Linked DNA regions of Homo sapiens. The protein of the gene in region 3 purifies or fractionates together with the protein of the main gene of each other region. This does not show direct contact. Each region holds a gene or a part of one and is shown on either strand. Other genes may lie near its edges.

Evidence for each region.
Region 1: the proteins of IGHMBP2 (region 3) and WDR12 purify together in Homo sapiens (affinity purification with mass spectrometry; one large-scale study listed by BioGRID and IntAct). This does not show direct contact.
Region 2: the proteins of IGHMBP2 (region 3) and WDR89 purify together in Homo sapiens (affinity purification with mass spectrometry; 2 studies listed by BioGRID and IntAct, with this or other methods). This does not show direct contact.
Region 4: the proteins of IGHMBP2 (region 3) and TUBA8 purify together in Homo sapiens (affinity purification with mass spectrometry; 2 studies listed by BioGRID and IntAct, with this or other methods). This does not show direct contact.
Region 5: the proteins of IGHMBP2 (region 3) and GRSF1 purify together in Homo sapiens (affinity purification with mass spectrometry; 2 studies listed by BioGRID and IntAct, with this or other methods). This does not show direct contact.

The regions. Positions count from the first base shown.
Region 1 is NC_000002.12:202,877,211-202,880,685, reverse strand, and holds part of WDR12 (ribosome biogenesis protein WDR12), read left to right. Parts: 3' UTR 1-3,475.
Region 2 is NC_000014.9:63,600,366-63,603,884, forward strand, and holds part of WDR89 (WD repeat-containing protein 89), read right to left. Parts: intron 1,943-3,519; exon of another isoform or gene 1,813-1,942; intron 1,570-1,812; exon of another isoform or gene 1,106-1,569; intron 1-1,105.
Region 3 is NC_000011.10:68,931,382-68,934,900, reverse strand, and holds part of IGHMBP2 (DNA-binding protein SMUBP-2), read right to left. Parts: exon of another isoform or gene 1,780-3,519; coding exon of another isoform or gene 1,778-1,779; intron 1,603-1,777; coding exon 1,420-1,602; intron 1,107-1,419; coding exon 988-1,106; intron 438-987; coding exon 343-437; intron 1-342. UniProt on the Homo sapiens protein: 5' to 3' helicase that unwinds RNA and DNA duplexes in an ATP-dependent reaction. Specific to 5'-phosphorylated single-stranded guanine-rich sequences. May play a role in RNA metabolism, ribosome biogenesis or initiation of translation.
Region 4 is NC_000022.11:18,117,296-18,120,814, reverse strand, and holds part of TUBA8 (tubulin alpha-8 chain), read right to left. Parts: intron 1-3,519.
Region 5 is NC_000004.12:70,829,874-70,833,392, forward strand, and holds part of GRSF1 (G-rich sequence factor 1), read right to left. Parts: intron 3,401-3,519; coding exon 3,245-3,400; intron 2,578-3,244; coding exon 2,434-2,577; intron 1,802-2,433; coding exon 1,666-1,801; intron 1-1,665. UniProt on the Homo sapiens protein: Regulator of post-transcriptional mitochondrial gene expression, required for assembly of the mitochondrial ribosome and for recruitment of mRNA and lncRNA. Binds RNAs containing the 14 base G-rich element.

The DNA.
Region 1 (3,475 bases), on a different chromosome or scaffold from region 3:
GTTGTGTTTATAAAATACAAACTGTGGCATACATTCTCTATACAAACTTGAAATTAAACTGAGTTTTACATTTCTCTTTAAAGGTATTGGTTTGAATTCAGATTTGCTTTTTTATTTTTATTTGTTTTTTTTTTTTTTGAGATGGAGTCTTGCTCTGTTGCCTAGGCTGGAGTGCAGTGGCGCAATCTCAACTCACTGCAACCTCCGCTTCCTAGGTTCAATCGATTCTCCTGTCTCAACCTCCCAAGTAGCTGGGATTACAGGCACACATCACGATGTCCTGCTAATTTTTGTATTTTTAGTAGAGACGGGGTTTTGCCATGTTGGCCAGGCTGGTCTTGAACTCCTGACCTCAGGTGATCTGCCCACCTCAGCCTCCCAAAGTGAGCCACTGTGCCTGGCCGAATTAAGATTTGTTTTTGAAATGCTGTAAAAGGTTATATTGGAAATCCAGTAATTGATTGTTGAGATTTTTATTTCTGTTAGAGACTTAGATTTTTTTAAGTTAGCTATTTTAAAAAAGCATTCAAAAAGATTAATGAAAATTGTAATAGAGAAAAAGTTAGAAATTCAGTTCCTTTTGGCAGAATAAATGTTCAAGAAAATTAGGCTGTGAGGGTACTCAGAACATTAAAAAAAATGTAGGCTGGGCATGGTGGCTCACACCTGTAATCCCAGCACATTGGGAGGCCGAGGCAGGTGGATCACCTGAGGTCAGGAGTTTGAGACCACCCTGGCCAACATGTCAAAACCCTGTCTCTGCTAAAACTACAAAAATTAGCTGGGCATGGTGGCGACCGCCTGTAATCCCAACTACTTGGGAGGCTAAGGCAGGAGAATTGCTTGAACCCGGGAGGCAGGGGTTGTAGTGAGCTGAGATTGTGCCACTGCACTCCAGCCTGGGTGACAGTGCAAGACTCTGTCTCAACAACAACGATAACAAAATATTGATTCGGCAGGGCACGGTGGCTCATGCTTGTAATCCCAGCATTTTGGGTGGCCAAGGCAGGCGGCTCACCTGAGGTCAGGGGTTCGAGACCAGCCTGACCAACATGGTGAAACTTTGTCTCTACTAAAAAAAAAAAAATCCAAAACAAATTAGCCGGGTGTGGTGGCACACTCCTGTGGTCCCAAGTACTTGGGAGGCTGAGGCAGGAGAATTGGTTGAACCCAGGAGGTGGAGGTTGCAGTGAGCTGAGATCATACCACTGTGCTCCAGCCTGGGCAGCAGAGCCAGACTCTATCTCAAAATAAAGACAAGTAGATTGCCAATTTTTGAAGAATTCATCAAGATATTTTAAGGAAGGCACTTTATATTAAATATATGTCAGATCCTTTAGAAATTGCATACAGTTGGTTGGGCACGGTGGCTCACGCCTGTAATCCCAGCACTTTGGGAGGCTGAGGCGGGCGGATTGCCTGAGCTCAGGAGTTCGAAACCAGCCTGGGCAACACAGTGAAACCTCGTCTCTAATAAAATACAAAAAATTAGCTGGGCGTGGCAGCATGTGCCTGTAGTCCCAGCTACTCCGGAGGCTGAGGCAGGCAAATTGCTTGAACCCGAGAGGCAGAGGTTGCAGTGAGCTGAGATTGTGCCACTGCATTTCAGCCTGGGCAACAGAGCAAGACTCTGTCTCAAAAAAAAATAAAAAATTGCATTGCATACAGTTTTCACTGTAACCCTAATCTTTCCTCATGTGTAGATTAGAATAAATTTTTTAGACAAAACCTTTCATCAGTATTAAACATTCTACAGATTTTATGATATCATTAGCATTTATCTTTATGCATGTGTTATATAAAAATATTTAAAGTAAATGTATTTTTTAAATGTTATTTCCATTATTAATGGATTGATACTCCTTAAGTAGAGCATTCACAACCTTTTAGTAATATTTGGGAAATATGTTTGGTCTCATTATTAGATGGTATTACATCTCAAATGATGTTCCTGTTGCAGAAGTCTGCGAAACAATATCTAAACTTGGCTGCAGTTGAGAGCTAAACAGTGTATTGAACCAGTTAGGAGTTTAGTTCTCTGTAGAAAACCAGAGGCAGTCCAGGGCTGATGTAGGTTTTGTTCCACATTCTTTAGGATCCTAGGCTCCCTCCATCCCTGGTATGTGGTCCTCATTTTCATATAGACCAAGAGCTAGAGCTCCAGTTACCATTTCTTAAAGTATATTTTAATGCCAAATAGTGAATAAAGGTGGCCAGAAAATTCATGCACAGAATCCTTCTTTTTCTCATTTTGTGCTGATTGGTATAAATTTTATTGTATTTGTAGTCTCTGGAAATCTTCTAACTTTGAGAGGACAAAGATGAATTCCTAGTCCTGTTTTGGATGGTCTTCAAATGATCCTTAAGGGCAGTTATTTAAAATGTCTTTCTTAACTCACCCAACCTAGGCTGACCGAATGTAGTCTGTATAAACTAGATGGTTAAAGATAAAGAAGCCTATATATCAGATGCATAGACAAAGAATAAAATGGCATCCAGAACTGGTCCCCACCTATTCCCAATCCTGGTTCCACAGCAGAATACATTCATAGTTCAGGCATTCTTCCTTGAGATAGATATAATGTAAGTGACCAAGTCTCTTGGACAAGTATTGTCTCTGATCAATCCCTGCCAAACTCCTTTCCTTGGTTAACTCAAGTGGTTAGATCTTACTCCCTGAACAGAAGGAATATGAGAGGTCAATACATGCCTAGACTATTCAGTCCTCTGATATTGCTCCACACCCTTTCCCTCAAAAGCCATGAGACCTTTCAATGGTCCCAGTTCCTCTACCAGAACACCAGAGATGCCTGCTTTACATGGACTTATATATTCCCAAGAATCACTTGGATAAATGAGTGGTGCTGCTTTCCCGTGGTTGGGGAAAAGCTAGGAACCTGACAATGCAGTGCTCAGAACCTGCTGACCGGTACTAGTTATGCTGTCTTGCCATAGTAGTGCAGTTCTTTAAAATGTTGATACTTGCTCTCTTATCAAAGGTTGGTTTTTTTGTTTTTTTGTCAAGACAGGGTCTCACTATGTCACCCATACTGGAGTACAATGGTGTAATCTTGGCTTACTGCAACCTCCACCTTCTGGGCTCAAGCTGGCCTCTCACCTCAGCCTTCCAAGTAGCTGGGACCACACCCAGTCAATTTTTTATTTTTTATTTTTTAATTTATTTTTATTATTACTTTTTTTGTAGAGAGAGGGTTTCGCCATGTAGCCCATGCTGGTCTTGAACTCCTGGGCTCAAGCTGTCTGCCCACCTGGACCTCCCAAAGTGCTGAGATTACAGGCATGAGCCACCGCACCCAGCCCAAATAAAGTTTTAAGAAATTACTTGGCCAGGCATAGTGGGGCCTTTGTAGAAAAACATAGCTTTTCTATGAGAAGATGATCAATATTTTCTTTTCCTTTGAATTTGGAATTACCATTTTGGAACTGTTGTCAACAATGCATAATAATATATCAG
Region 2 (3,519 bases), on a different chromosome or scaffold from region 3:
TATGCCTGTAGTCCTAGCTACTCAGGAGGCTGAGGTAGGAGGACTGCTTGAGACCAGAAGTTGAGACTACAGTGATCCATGATCATGTCACTGTCATACAGCCTGGGGAATAAAGTGAGATCCTGCCTCAAAAAAGAAAAAAAAAATGCTGAATTTACTATATATATTTTATGCTAGTAAGAGAATAAAAAACATGTACATACGCCACCCAGTAGTTCCTTTTAGCTCAAACCCAATTACTGGTTCTACTCAAGTCATCTTCAGGATTGGCAAGGATCTCCACTTTGGAATAATCTTCTCCTGGCCCCAGCTGCCTTACACAACTTTAGAATTTAAACATAGATATGTAGGCAAAAAAAAAAAAAAAAAAAAAAAAAAAAAAAAAAAAAGGTTTCCCAAAAATATTCATGCCTTAATCCCTGGAATCTGTGAATATGTTAGGTTACAAAGGAAAACTGAAGTTGTACATGGAATTAAGGTTGCTTATCAGCCTAATATAAGGCTAACCTTAAAATAGGGAGATTATCCTAGATTATCTGTTATCACCGTGGCCCAATATGGTAACAACTGTCTTCAAAAGTGGAAGAGGGAGGCAGAAGAGTCAGAGGAAGAGGTTCCCATAGAAGAAAGGCAAAGACACAGAGAGATACAATGTTGCTGGTTTTGAAGACAGAGGCTGAGAGTGGCCTCTAGAAACTAAAAAGCAAGAAAAGATTGTCCTCTAAGCCTCCAAATGGAAATGCAGCCCTGTTGACATCTTAATTTTAGCCCAGTGACATCCATTTTGGACTTCAGACCTCCAGAACCGTTAAGATAATAAACTTAATGTTATTTCAAACAACTAAGTTTGCAGTAATTTGTTATAGCAGCAATAGGAAACGAATACAACAGAGGTTCCCAGTATAGAATCCTGGAGAAGTCCTTCTAAGGCAGTAGCAGCTTGTGATAGTAGAACTGGGATTTGAACCTAGGCATTCTGGCTTCAGGCTTCACGGACTGTGCTCTAAACCACCATACTAGATTGCCTCTCCAGGGTGGGCTGTATGTAGGACAAGTTCAAGGCCAGAAAAACATGCATGCCTAGTAACACTATAATAAATTCTTGACACTAGAGCAGAGTACGAGTCTGAGGTGGAGGGAGTCATGGCAGGACAAGCGTTTAAGTTTCTTCCACTCTTTGACCGAGTATTGGTTGAAAGGAGTGCTGTTGAAACTGTAACCAAAGGAGGCATTATGCTTCCAGAAAAATCTCAAGGAAAAGTATTGCAAGCAACAGTAGTCGCTGTTGGATCGGGTTCTAAAGGAAAGGGTGGAGAGATTCAACCAGTTCGTGTGAAAGTTGGAGATAAAGTTCTTCTCCCATAACATGGAGGCACCAAAGTAGTTCTAGATGACAAGGATTATTTCCTATTTAGAGATGGTGACGTTCTTGGAAAGTACGTAAACTGAAATAAGTCACTATTGAAATGGCATCAACATGAAGCTGCCCATTCCACCGAAGTTCTGAAATCTTTCATCATGTAAATAATTTCCATATTTCTCTTTTATAATAAACTAAATAACTAATGAAAAAAATAAAATAAATTCTTCTATTGTGCTTTCTCATCAGTGAATATTCTTTCTAGCCTGTCTAACAAATTCATTTTCATTCTTAAGATGAAATGTTTTTTCTGTTGCTTTAGTGATATCTTCTTAAGCATCTGTCTTTTCATCTTTAAAAGGGGAAATGAGTACTAACTCAAGAACTGTTAGGAGGATTAACTAATGCATGCCATGTGTTCTGCACAATGTATGGCATATCATAGTACCTACACAATAGATGTAATAGGTCAGGCATGGTGGCTCATGCCTGTAATCCCAACACTTCTGGAGGCCGAGGCAGCGATCACTGAGGTCAGGAGTTCGAGACCAGTCTGGTCAACATGGTAAAACCCCGTCTCTACTAAAAATACAAAAATTAGTTTGGTGTTGTGGTGCACACCTGTAATCCAGCTACTCGGGAGGCTGAGGCAGGAGAACTGCTTGAGGTAGAGGTTGCAATGAGCCAAGGTCTTGCCACTGCACTCCAGCCTGAACAACAGAGTGAGATTCCTACTCAAAAAAAAAAAAAAAAAAAAAAAAAGATGGCTGGACATGGTAGCTCACGCCTGTAATCCCAGCACTTTGGGAGGCCAAGGCGGGCAGATCACCTGAGGTCGGGAGATTGAGACCAGTCTGACCGACATGGAAAAACCCCGTCTCTATTAAAAATACAAAATTAGCCAGGCGTGGTGGCACATGCCTGTAATCCCAGCTACTCGGGAGGCTGAGGCAGGAGAATCGCTTGAACCCAGGAGGAGGAGGTTGCGGTGAGCCGAGATCGCGCCGTTGCACTCCATCCTGGGCAACAAGAGTGAAACTCCATCTCAAAAAAAAAAAAAAAGATGTAATATAAAAATTACCAGTATCACCATATAAGGGAGAATTTGGATCTATCAGAGAGCTCCAAATAGCACAATTACATCAAACAGCAAAAAATATTAGTAAGTTGGATTTGGGTTTTTTAAAATTTATTTTATTTTTTTGTATTTTTAGTGGAGATGGGGTTTCACCGTGTTAGCCAGGATGGTCTCGACCTCCTGACCTCGTGATCCGCCTGCCTCGGCCTCCCAAAGTGCTGGGATTACAGGCGTGAGCCACCACGCCCAGCCTGGATTTGGGTTTAAAATAGAAATAAGCATTCCCTCCAACTTTTAATTTTCAACATTTATTTTTACTTATTTTTCCTTTGGAGATGGCATCACAGCTCATTAATTTTCAACATTTATAAGTGCGCACACACAAAAAGTTCTAATGCACACACACAGTTCACCTTCTAGGTTCACTGTTAACTTCTTGCCACATTTGCTTTCTCTCTCTACACACACACACACACACACACCCCACTGCTTTTTAAAAATGAACCTTTTGATGAGAGTTAGCTGCAGACAAAGTATCACTCCATTCCTAAATACTTCACTATAACAGCATCTCTCCAACCTTCTGTTTTTCATGTCATGGAATTTTTTGAATATCCTATTCTTCAACAACTTTCATCCAAAGAGTTCAGGATCTATTAATTGTCCTTGCCTAAATCAATGATTATGCTAGAATCTGTAAAACAGTCCTTTTCTATCATTCTTTCTACCTTAGCAGGCATTCTTCTATAAACAAGAGCTTTTTTCCTTTCTCTGCTTCTTTGACTAGGAAATCACAATTCTTAAAAACTGTGTATCATAATCTATCGCTTTGTTGCTTTTTGATGCTCAAAGTGTCTGGACTTGGCCATTAAGACCCTTTAAGCCAGCTTCTGAAGCCTTCTGATAGGACCCCATCAGTCTGTAAGCCCCACATGAGAAACTCCGTGGAAGCATTAGGTAGCTCTAAAAATGGTGTTCTTCCTTCAACTTAAGTATTCAGACATGAAATGACCATTTTCCAGTAACGCTGGGGTAGTCACCTCCACAGCTGCTGAGGTAGCTAGCACAGTACAACTGTTCT
Region 3 (3,519 bases):
CTGTGGGAAATGCCAGAAAAGGACAGGCTGTTCCGCCAGGGCTGCCCGTGGAAGGACTGTGTCAGCCTGAGGCTGCCGGGGTCACCCAGCAAATCTGGCCAGAACACAAGCCAGTGCAGAAGGCTGGGGCACCGGGCAGGGCGGGGCAAGGTGGGGCGGGCAGACGAACACGCAGAGGGGCCCCTGACGACATCATTTGGGCCCTGGATCCAGTCACAATAAGGTCAGCCCTACCCCTGAACTTTTCGGTCACCACAGCCAACAAATCACCCTTTTTCTTTCACCCTCTAGGTTGTGTGAGCCCCAGCTGCTCTGTAGAGGGACAAAAGGAAACCCTCGTACCTGGAGGTTGTATGGCGAGACCACAGCAATGTCACGGGCTGGAACACCAGCGTCCACCAGAGCCTGGATGTGCAAACTGACGAGGCGGACTTCGCCTGGAGGGAAAGAAAGAACGGGTGAGCAGCACAAGGTCGCCCCAAGTGGGCATCCACCACCAACACGTGTTTCGGGCACGTTTCTGTCTATCATGGCCAGCTGATCCTCCACTCAGGTGGCTTCCTGGGAGCTAATCATCTGTGTCCCAGGGCCCCAGGACCAGCCATGCCCAGCTAACTTGAATTTCACATCAGCAATGAAGGCCTTTTGACTCCTATGGCCGTGCATCCTGTTCAACGTGGAACTGGGGAGATGGTGGTGTCAGCTGAGCAATGACAGTTCCCATCACCAGACCAGCCAGGCAGAGCTGGGCCACCATTCAGGAGAAGGCCGTAAAATGCTGCCAGGCCCATCTCACCCAGGAGCGGTCTGCTCACCCTGGAGAAAACGATGCTGCTCAGCCTCTTGCAGTGTGGGGCTCCGTTTTTTCACGGCCATCAACAACTGCTCTCAGCTCCTCCCGGAATTAGGCAATTAAAGTGCCTTTTATTTTTAAAGAGCTGGAGGTATGTTTAAACAAAAAAGCTGGCCATCTGCAAGCAAGCTCACCAGGGTTCCCTTTCGACTGTTCGTCCTCCTCCTCCAGCTCAAACAGCCCGCAGCCGGCGGTGTCCACCAAGAGCAGGGGCACACCCGTCTCTTCTGTGGCAGCCACACCTGGGAGGTCCCTGGCACACAGGCAGAGAGGGAGCACATCAGGGGGCCACAGTGCAGCACTGAGGCCCCACCCAACAGAACCGACCCCTCCCACGAGGAAAAGGCTTAGGTAGGGGAGGACAATGAGCACATCAGGACATCAGAAGGGAGGGAGCGGGCCTGACCCAGCTCTCCAGGGCAAGGCCACCCTCTCTTCCAAAAAGCTAGCCTCAGAGTCGACTTTCATGCAGAAAGCTTCACTTTAGCTTGCTGCGTAGAAACAGGTGACGCAGAGGATTAGCCAGGGCAGAAGGATGGGGCGGCGGGTGGTGCCGAGCTACTCACCTCAGGAGGTGCCTTGCCACGGAAGAGTGGGCTGTGAGCTGCCCAAGGTACATGGTGTCTGAGGCCCAGCGCATGATAGCCTGGTGCATGCGGTACTGCACCGTCAGTGTCCGCACCACCCTCGCGCCGTACTCCTCAGCCAGGCGTTCCATCAGGCTGAGTGACAGTCCTGCCAGCGCAGCCCTGCGCCCAGGAGGGAGAAAGGGGGAAGGCAGGCCTGAGCCCCAGAGTCCAGGTGTGAACCACAGCAAGTGAGGAGGACAGGCCCCAAACCTCAGGACCCAACTCTCCCCTGGATTCTGACCCAGAAGTAACCAAGGGGCGGGTTTGGCTGAATCACAGCCCCAAAGGCACCTACATCCAATCGCCAAGGCCCGTGAATGTTCCCTTACAGGACAACAGGGACGCTGCAGCTGAGATGAAGTTAAGGATCCTGGGATGGGGAGGCGACCCTGGATGACCCAGGTGATAACCCAAGGGTCTTATAAGGGGGCATGCGAGGGTCAGTCAGAGAAGGTCACCGAGGGGAGAGATTTGAAGACGTAACACGGCTGGCTTCATAGACAGAGGAAAGGGCAACAAGTCAAGCAGTGGCCTCTAGGAGCCGGAAAAGACCAGGAGATGGGTTTTCCCCTGGATCCTCCAGAAGAAGCAACCCCACCCACACCTTGATTTTAAGCCGGTGAGTCTGATTTTGGACATCTGACCCCCAGATTGTCGTTTCTGGAGGTCAGAAAATCTGTTGTTGTCAGCCACTAAGCTTGTGGTCATTTGTCACAGCCATAACAGGGAACGAACACACTCCAACATGCTCCAACTGTGAGCAGTCAAGTCCACTCCCACCAAGAACGGCTGCAGCGGCTGAGCACTGCCCAGGCGCCAGGCACTGCTGGGTGTGCCAGATGTGGATTAACTCCCTTCATCCTTATAACAACCTCATGAGGTGGCTACTGTTATGACTCCCATATTACATGTAAGAAGGGTGAGACAGAGGAGGCTGCCAGCCCACAGCTGCCCGGGTGAGCTGCAGAGCCAGGACCTGCCCGGGCCACCTGGTGCCAGAGCCCACCCTCTGCACCACTACGGCTCACCAACCCCACCAAAACCCTGGGGCAGTACCCAGCTCCACTTCAGAGACCTTCCCTCTGGAAACTTACCAGACCTCTGTGATTAACGTATTTTTAATTCCAACAAAATGAGGACAGGACGCGATGATCAGTACCAACTGCAAACCCAAAACACTCAGCGCAACGTCACCCAACGTCCTCCCCCAAAAACCATCCTACTCTCTGCAGGGAACGCCACCCAACGTCTTCCCCCGAAACCATTCTACTCTCTCCAGGGAATGCCACCCAACGTCTTCCCCCGAAACCATCCTACTCTCTCCAGGGAACGCCACCCAATGTTTTCCCCGAAACCATCCTACTGTCTCCAGGGAATGCCACCCAATGTTTTCCCCGAAACCATCCTACTCTCTCCAGGGAACACCACCCAACGTCTTCCCCCAAAACCATCCTACTCTCTCCAGGGAACGCCACCCAACGTCTTCCCCCAAAACCATCCTACTCTCTGCAGGGAACGCCACCCAACGTCTTCCCCCGAAACCATCCTACTCCCTCCTACACAACAGGGTCCCTGCTCAAGGGCACAGTTCCAAACTTCCTCCACCCAAAGGCTTTCCAGAGGATGAAGACCTCCTTTAAGGACATCTCGAGAACCTCTCCCTGGAAGAAGCCACTGAATAAGCGTCCTCCCACGCCTGTCCTCCCTGCTCCCAGGGAGGTTCTGATGGCAGTGGCTGCTGCCATCATGCCGGCTGCAGCAGGGAACCCTGGCTGTGGCTGCACACTCCATGAAGCCAGTGGGAGCCCCGCCCCTTCTGAGGTAGAGTGGCCGCTGCAGCCCAGACACAGGGTCACAGCTACAGACCCAGGCCTCCTGCTCCAGAAGGGCGGGGCTACAGCCGCCCAAACTGCAGCTGTGGATCTGCGTCTCCCGGTGCTCTTAGGGGAGCCGGGAACAGGTAGGATCTGCCTTTCCGCGTGCAGCTGCAGCCGCCAGATCTGTGGCTGCAGACCTGGGCTTCCTGCTCCACGAAGC
Region 4 (3,519 bases), on a different chromosome or scaffold from region 3:
GTGTTAAGTAAAGCTGATGTGAAGCCACAATTGCCTGATTGGTATTCGTACTAACAGCTTAAGATGGGGAGTGCACTGATGGGAATGTAAATTGGTTCAGCCACTGTGGAAAGCAGTTTGGAGATTTCTCAAAGAACTCAGAACTACCATTTCACTCAGCAATCCTGTTACTGGGTATATATCCAAAAGAAAATCATCCTACCAAAAAGACACCTGCACTCACACGTTCATCACAGCACTATTCACAACAGCAAAGACACGGAATCAACCAGGTGCCCAGCAATGGTAGACTGGATACAGAAAATGTCATTCATATACACCATGGAATACTACGCAGCCCCCAAAAAAGAATGAACCCATATCCTTTGCAGCAACATGGATGCAGCTGGAGGTCATTATCCTAAGCAAATTAATGCAGGAATAGAAAACCAAATACCACATGTTCTTATAAGTGGGAGCTAAACATGGGTACTCATGGACAGAAAAATGGCAAGAGTAGACACTGGGCACTACTGGAGCGGGGAGGGAAGAAGCGGGCAAAGATTGGAAAACTAACTATTGGGTACTATGCTCATTACCTGGGTGACAGGATTAATCGTACCCCAAACCTTGGCATCACAATATATACCCATGTAAGAAATCTGCATATGTACTCCCTGAATCTAAAATAAAAGTTGAAATTATTAAAGAAAAAGGGGGGTGGGGAGAGAGACAGTGTGTGTGTGTGTGTGTGCACGTGCACACGTAGGCGTGATAGACTCATCCTCCCACCCACACCCTGCCCTGGGGAAGCAGTGGCCCACACAAGGCGACACTGTGCCTGGGGCAGCCGCCTGAGCCCAGCAGGAAGCATGTGCCAGGTCTGTGGGTTTCTATTTTTACCCATGACCTGCCCTGGCATTTTCCAGCTCCGGGTAACCCAAGCCAGGGGCAGAGCCTCCAGAGGGCACGGCTGGGCACAGAAGCCAGTAGAGTCCACGTCAAAGTGTGGGGCTCCTGGAGACGTGGAAGAAATTCTGGGCATGGAGAGCAGGGCAGCTGCCCTGAGTAGCATCTTGCGGGGTCAGAGCATCAGGACCATTGCCCCCTAGTTCAATTTTACAACTGTGCCCCCACTCTAGTCCTGTCTCTGTGCTACAGCTGAGCGACACCTGGTCCTTGCCTTGAGGGAGGATGAGCACAGGGGTGAGCGTGGGGCAGCCCGACGGGGGTCGCAACCCGCTGGATCTCCGTGAGCCTGGTGGCTAGGGAGGGGATTCACCCACAGAGCTGCCCACGGCCCCAGGTTCCCATGTTGCCTTCTCAATTTACTTGCTGTGCTGTGTGGCCTGGGCTGAGTTACTGAGCCTCTCCTCATCTGAAAAGTGTAAGTTAGCCACAGTTGTTGATGCTGTCTTGCCATTATCATTTTCATTACGGTACTACCTGGTAGCATTTTTCTGCACCGGGAAGTAGCACACGTAGAGGGAGCTCTCAGGTCCCTGCTCCTCTCTCCTTTATTGTGGGGTCTATTCTCTGCCTCCATCTGAGGGCTCAATTCAGGCCTAAGGAAAGCAGCATCTGCATCCAGAAACCACCCACAACCAGCGAGTTATCCACCCAGACCACGGCGTCACATTCAGCATGTGGCTGTGACTTCCCAGGGAGGTGTGGAAGCTGAGGGGACACTGGAGAGGCCCGAGGGGGGCCTGATCCTATGTATTTTCCTTCTAAGTGACAGTGTCCTCTGTGGTCCTAACCCTCAGCCTTCTGGGTCTGTCGCCCCCTCACCACCACCGCATCCCGACCACCCTCTAGTCCTGCCTACAGTGCTGCCCGGCCCCCAGCCTGCTCTCACTTCTGGAACATTCTGGGGCTTTCCAGGGAGGACGCAGGGATATTTTGGGAAAATCGAAGATCATGGGAGGAAGAGTCAAGGATTTGGGGGACCTGAAAACCACTAGCATGGTGACAACGTCTTTAGCCTCTTTTAATGCCCTCATTAATCTCACACTAATACATATGCCAGTCTTTTACAAAATGTCTGTCTCTTTCTCTCTCCCCCGCCCCCGTCGTGCAAACACACACACCCCTTAGAAAGAGCTATTTTTCCTATTGAACTAGCTCATAAGAATAATTGGAGGCATAAAATAGACTCAGAAATGACTGACAGATTCATAGGTGCTCTCAAAAGTGAAAAGTAGCTACACCAATCAAGAGAGAAGGAAGATCCCTGCTAACAGGAACTGGGCTCCTTGGAGAGACGGAGGCGTCCAGGTCCAGGGTGGGGAGTGTGCTAGATGAGCCTGGAATGTCGCATAGCGCCTGGAGGCACGGAGGCTAACCAAGGGGCTGCCCAAGCACCTGAAGAGGCTCCTGCTGCCTAAGATGAGACAACCTGAGCCTCACAAGTACTGATGGCAGCATTTGAGTGAAGCAGGATGCAAGATGAAAACCCACAAGTCCTCAAAGAAAACCCCCAGAGAAAAACTCATTTGTCCCTATCCAGACAGCCCCGTTAGTTAGAGAAGGCTCTTTTTTCTTTAATTGAAGAATGTCTGCTAAGCAATGTGGACCGAATAATAGATTATCAAATATTGCCCTATTCCATCTTCTAATTACGTGATTGATTTGGACAAGAACGCCAACACCATTAGGTGAAAGACTGATGGGGAACTGGATCTTCGCCGAGAGCCAAAGAACCACTGTTATAGTCACAAGGGGGGACGTAACTACCAGGGTCGCCAGCCTAAGGCCGCGATCAATCTCAGCATCGCTAACTGTGGGCCAACCCGACATCGAGGACCTCCTGATGGGACGCAATGTGACACACACACCACCAGTGAGGACTTCTTCTCAAAAATACTCAGCCCTCATCACTGAGCCCTGTAGATTCAGTTTCCACTTCACAGGAAACACAGGGATCAGAGGGTTAATTAAGTTCAGTGATATCAGAGAAAACAAAATCAATCCAGAAGGTGAGACATCCTACAGGGCAGCTGGTCCAGCCTTTTTTTTTCTTAATTTTTTTTATTTACTTTCTTTTTTTTTTTTTTTTTTTGAGACGGAGTCTCACTCTGACGCCCAGACTGGAGTGCAGTGGTGCGATCTCGGCTCACTGCAAGCTCCGCCTGCCGGGTTCACACCATTCTCCTGCCTCAGCCTCCCAGGTAGCTGGGACTACGGGCGCTCGCCACCACACCCGGCTAATTTTTTGTATTCTTTTAGTACAGACAGGGTTTCACCATGTTAGCCAGGATGGTCTCGATCTCCTGACCTCGTGATCCACCTGCCTCAGCCTCCCAAAGTGCTGGGATTACAGGCGTGAGCCATCGGGCCTGGCCCAGCCTTTTCAACTCATGAGAAATGAAGAGCTGGGAGGGGCTGTCCCATGTCAAAGGAACTAAGGCACCACCAAGCACCACCACACGCATCATGGGGACTCTGACTGAATTCTTGTTTGAACAAATCAAAATATTTGGGGGACAAATAAACTGATTTGCTTTGTTCAGCGTATTCATAAAAATGTGGTTAAGTATG
Region 5 (3,519 bases), on a different chromosome or scaffold from region 3:
TTGTTTACTTCAAAGGAGCTGATTTAAAAGGCCAGAAAACAGTAAAAAAAAAAATTAACGAAACAGTGATTTAACATTTGACATTTTAAACTGTACCTCCAAAGTTAAAGTTAAAACACAAATGAACCCACTTATCATCATGTGCATCCTGAGGTGATGTCAACATGAGATACTGTACAAGACAACTGATCTAATTTCTTCAAAAGTCAATTGCTTTTAAAAAGGGGGGAAGAATAAGTAAGGGGGATTTGCTCTAGTTCAAGAGAATCAGTGGTCAGGTGCAGTGGCTCACACCTGTAATCCTAGCGTTTTGGGAAGCCAAAGCGGGCGATCACTTGAGCCCATGAGTTTGAGGCCAGCCAGGGCAACACAGCAAGACCCCACCTACAAACACACACGCACGCACGCACACACACATACACACAGCCAGGTGTGGCGGCACATGCCTATTGTTCTAGCTAGTTGGGAGGATGAGGCGAGACGATTGCTTGAGCCCAGGAATTCAAGGCTGTAGTGAGCTATCATCATGCCACTGCACTCCAGCCTGGGTGACAGAATAAGACCCTGTGTCTTAAAAAAAAAAAAAAAACACACACACACACAGAGAATTATGGACATAACAATCAAATGCAGTGTGTAGACCTTATCTGGATTCTGTATTTTTGTCCGGTGTGCTGGCTCACACCTGTAATCCCAGCACTTTTGGAGGCCGAGGTGGGTGAATGACTTGAGTCCGGGAGTTCTAGACCAGCCTGGCCAACATGGTAAAACCTTGTCTCTACTAAAAATACAAAACTTAGCTGGGCATGGTGGCGCATGCCTCTAGTTCCAGCTACTCAGGAGGCTGAGGCAGGAGGATCACATGAAACTGGGAGGCAGAGAGAGGATGCAGTGAGCCAAGATCACACCACCGCACTCCAGCCTAGGCGGCAGAGTGAAACTCCGTTGCCAAAAAAAAAAAGGCTATTTTTGGTATAATTGGGAAAATGCTATTATGAACTGTTATTAGATAATATACTATTGCTAACAGTGTTAGATATAACATTGAAATTATGTAAAAAAATTTTTTTAAAAGATGCATACTAAAAAAAACCCAGATGAAGCAAATATAACAGATGTTACATTTTATATATAAATGTGTTAATCTAGCTGCTCTAGGTACTCTGTCTATGGGTTAGTCCCTGCCCCACAAGGAGCAGTCAAGCCGGATGCGGTGGCTCACGCCTGTAATCCCAGCACTTTGGGAGGCCGAGGCGGGCGGATCACAAGGTCGAGAGATCGAGACCACCCTGGCCAACATGGTGAAACCCCGTCTCTACTAAAAATACAAAAAAAGCCGGGCATGGTGGCAGGCGCCTGTAATCCCAGCTACTTGGGAGGCTGAGGCAGGAGAATCGCTTAAACCAGGGAGGCAGAGGTTGCAGTGAGCCAAGATCGTGCCATTGCACTCTAGCCTAGGCAAAAAGAGTGAAACTCTGTCTCAAAAAAAAAAAAAAGGAGCAGTCGAAAAAAAATTGTTAATCTAAATTATGGGCATTTGATGGCTCACTACACTACTCTCTCTACTTTTCTATGTTTGGATAACTTTTCAGTCATATTACAGCACATTCATCAAAATGACTTAATGTGTAACACTTCTGCATCATTAGTATCTGCTTTACTCACCGATTACCAATTTCTTCCCTGTGTTTCAACAGGGCTTGGTTGGCCATTTCTGGTTCTTCAAATTGCACATAGGCTTCCCCTGTTTTTCGCCTCCCTCTATAGTCCATCACAAAAGTAATGTCAACTATATTCAGTCCTAGGACACCAAGAGATTTTAATGCTACTAGCAGGCTTTTTTATCCTTAGAATTAACACCATCATTCACATACTAATAAAATTTTTATTCTGTTTTGCCAGTCCCAAAACTGAATACATGCTTGACAGGAAGAAAATTATTATGCAGTCAAAAGTCAGTCAACACCTACATACTTGTATTTCCAGAATAGGTAAGGTCCAAGAAGCCCACCCAAAACATACAATTCTCCCCACCAGTTTTTTTTTTTTTTTTTGCTGTTAATTATATACTAGGAAACAATAGAAATCACAGACTTCACTGCTAATGGTTCTAGGAATTAGAAAATACTTTTAAATTATATAAATTGTTATTGTCTTACACAAATACAGCAACTATTATGAGAAGTTATTTCCTTCAATAGTAAAACCCTCATGAAATTATTCTGAAATCTGACTTCCCTCCTAAAATCTGCCTGATAGAACAAAAACACATATAAAATCTATAAATATTAGAAATTTAAGTGAAGAGCTCTCCCCTAAAGAACCTAATATAACTGCATGCCTTTGCCCAGAAACAGGCTCATCTAAGATATAGAAGGAGATACCAAGGGAAAAAAGATATGAGCTCCCAAGCATAATACAACTGCAAAGTACCTGCAAAGAAGTCTACAATGTCTTTCTCATTGCAACTATAAGGAAGTCCTCTCAAACGAACCACACCATCATTTACCACAGGCGAAGATTTGACCTGCAAGCTCTTCATTAAGGCATCCACATCTTCATTGTTTATCTCATATACTACGAAGAAAAAACCCAACAGGGATGAAAAATTTACATAACAAAGGAACAAACCCATTAAAAAAAATCATTACAACTTGCTGGGTTATCTGAGAATTCAATAACTATTTTAATCTTTATGCGCTTCTCTAGAGAAAATAACAAATGACATTTATTGCATATTTACCATGCGGGCATAACTTCTTTATTTCTCACAGCTTGTAAGATACTTCATTGGCCAGGCACACTGGCTCACGCCTATAATCCCAGAACTTTGGGAGGCCAAGGCGGGTGGATTACCTGAGGTCAGGAGTTTGAGACCAGCCTGACCAATATGGTAAAACCCCATCTCTAATAAAAATACAAAAATTAGCTGGGTATCATGGCATGTGCCTGTAGTCCCAGCTACTTGGGAGGCTGAGACAGGAGAATTGCTTGAACCCAGGAGGCAGAGGTTGCAGTGAGCTGAAATCGCACCACTGCACTCCAGCCTGGGTGACAGAGTGAGATTCCATCCCCCCCACAAAAAAAAGAAACTTTATCTCTTTATGTTTTATTTTCACATCCTATAAAAGAATGCATTCATACAATCTAAATACTTCATTATTAAGGATCAAATAAAAACTACCTTGAAAAGTATAAAACCTAATGCAATGATCCCAAAAAGCCATAATCTGACTTCACATACCTTCCACATACCGCTGGCCCATGTACATGCGGTGCTTCTCTAAGGCTTTCTGCACATCCTGCTCTGACTCCATTTCAATTAAGGCATCACCCCTTCGTTTCCCATCTCTGTTTAGGAGAAAATGTATTCCATTCTCACCGTTGCGGATTCTGCAGTCTAAAAGTGTATGAGCAAAATCAATTGAAAACAGAAATCAAACTTTTAGCTCAATTATGTAAGTCACAAGAATGCAGTTTTCCAACAACAAAGCAGGAAACAAGTGTCATATTCCTTAC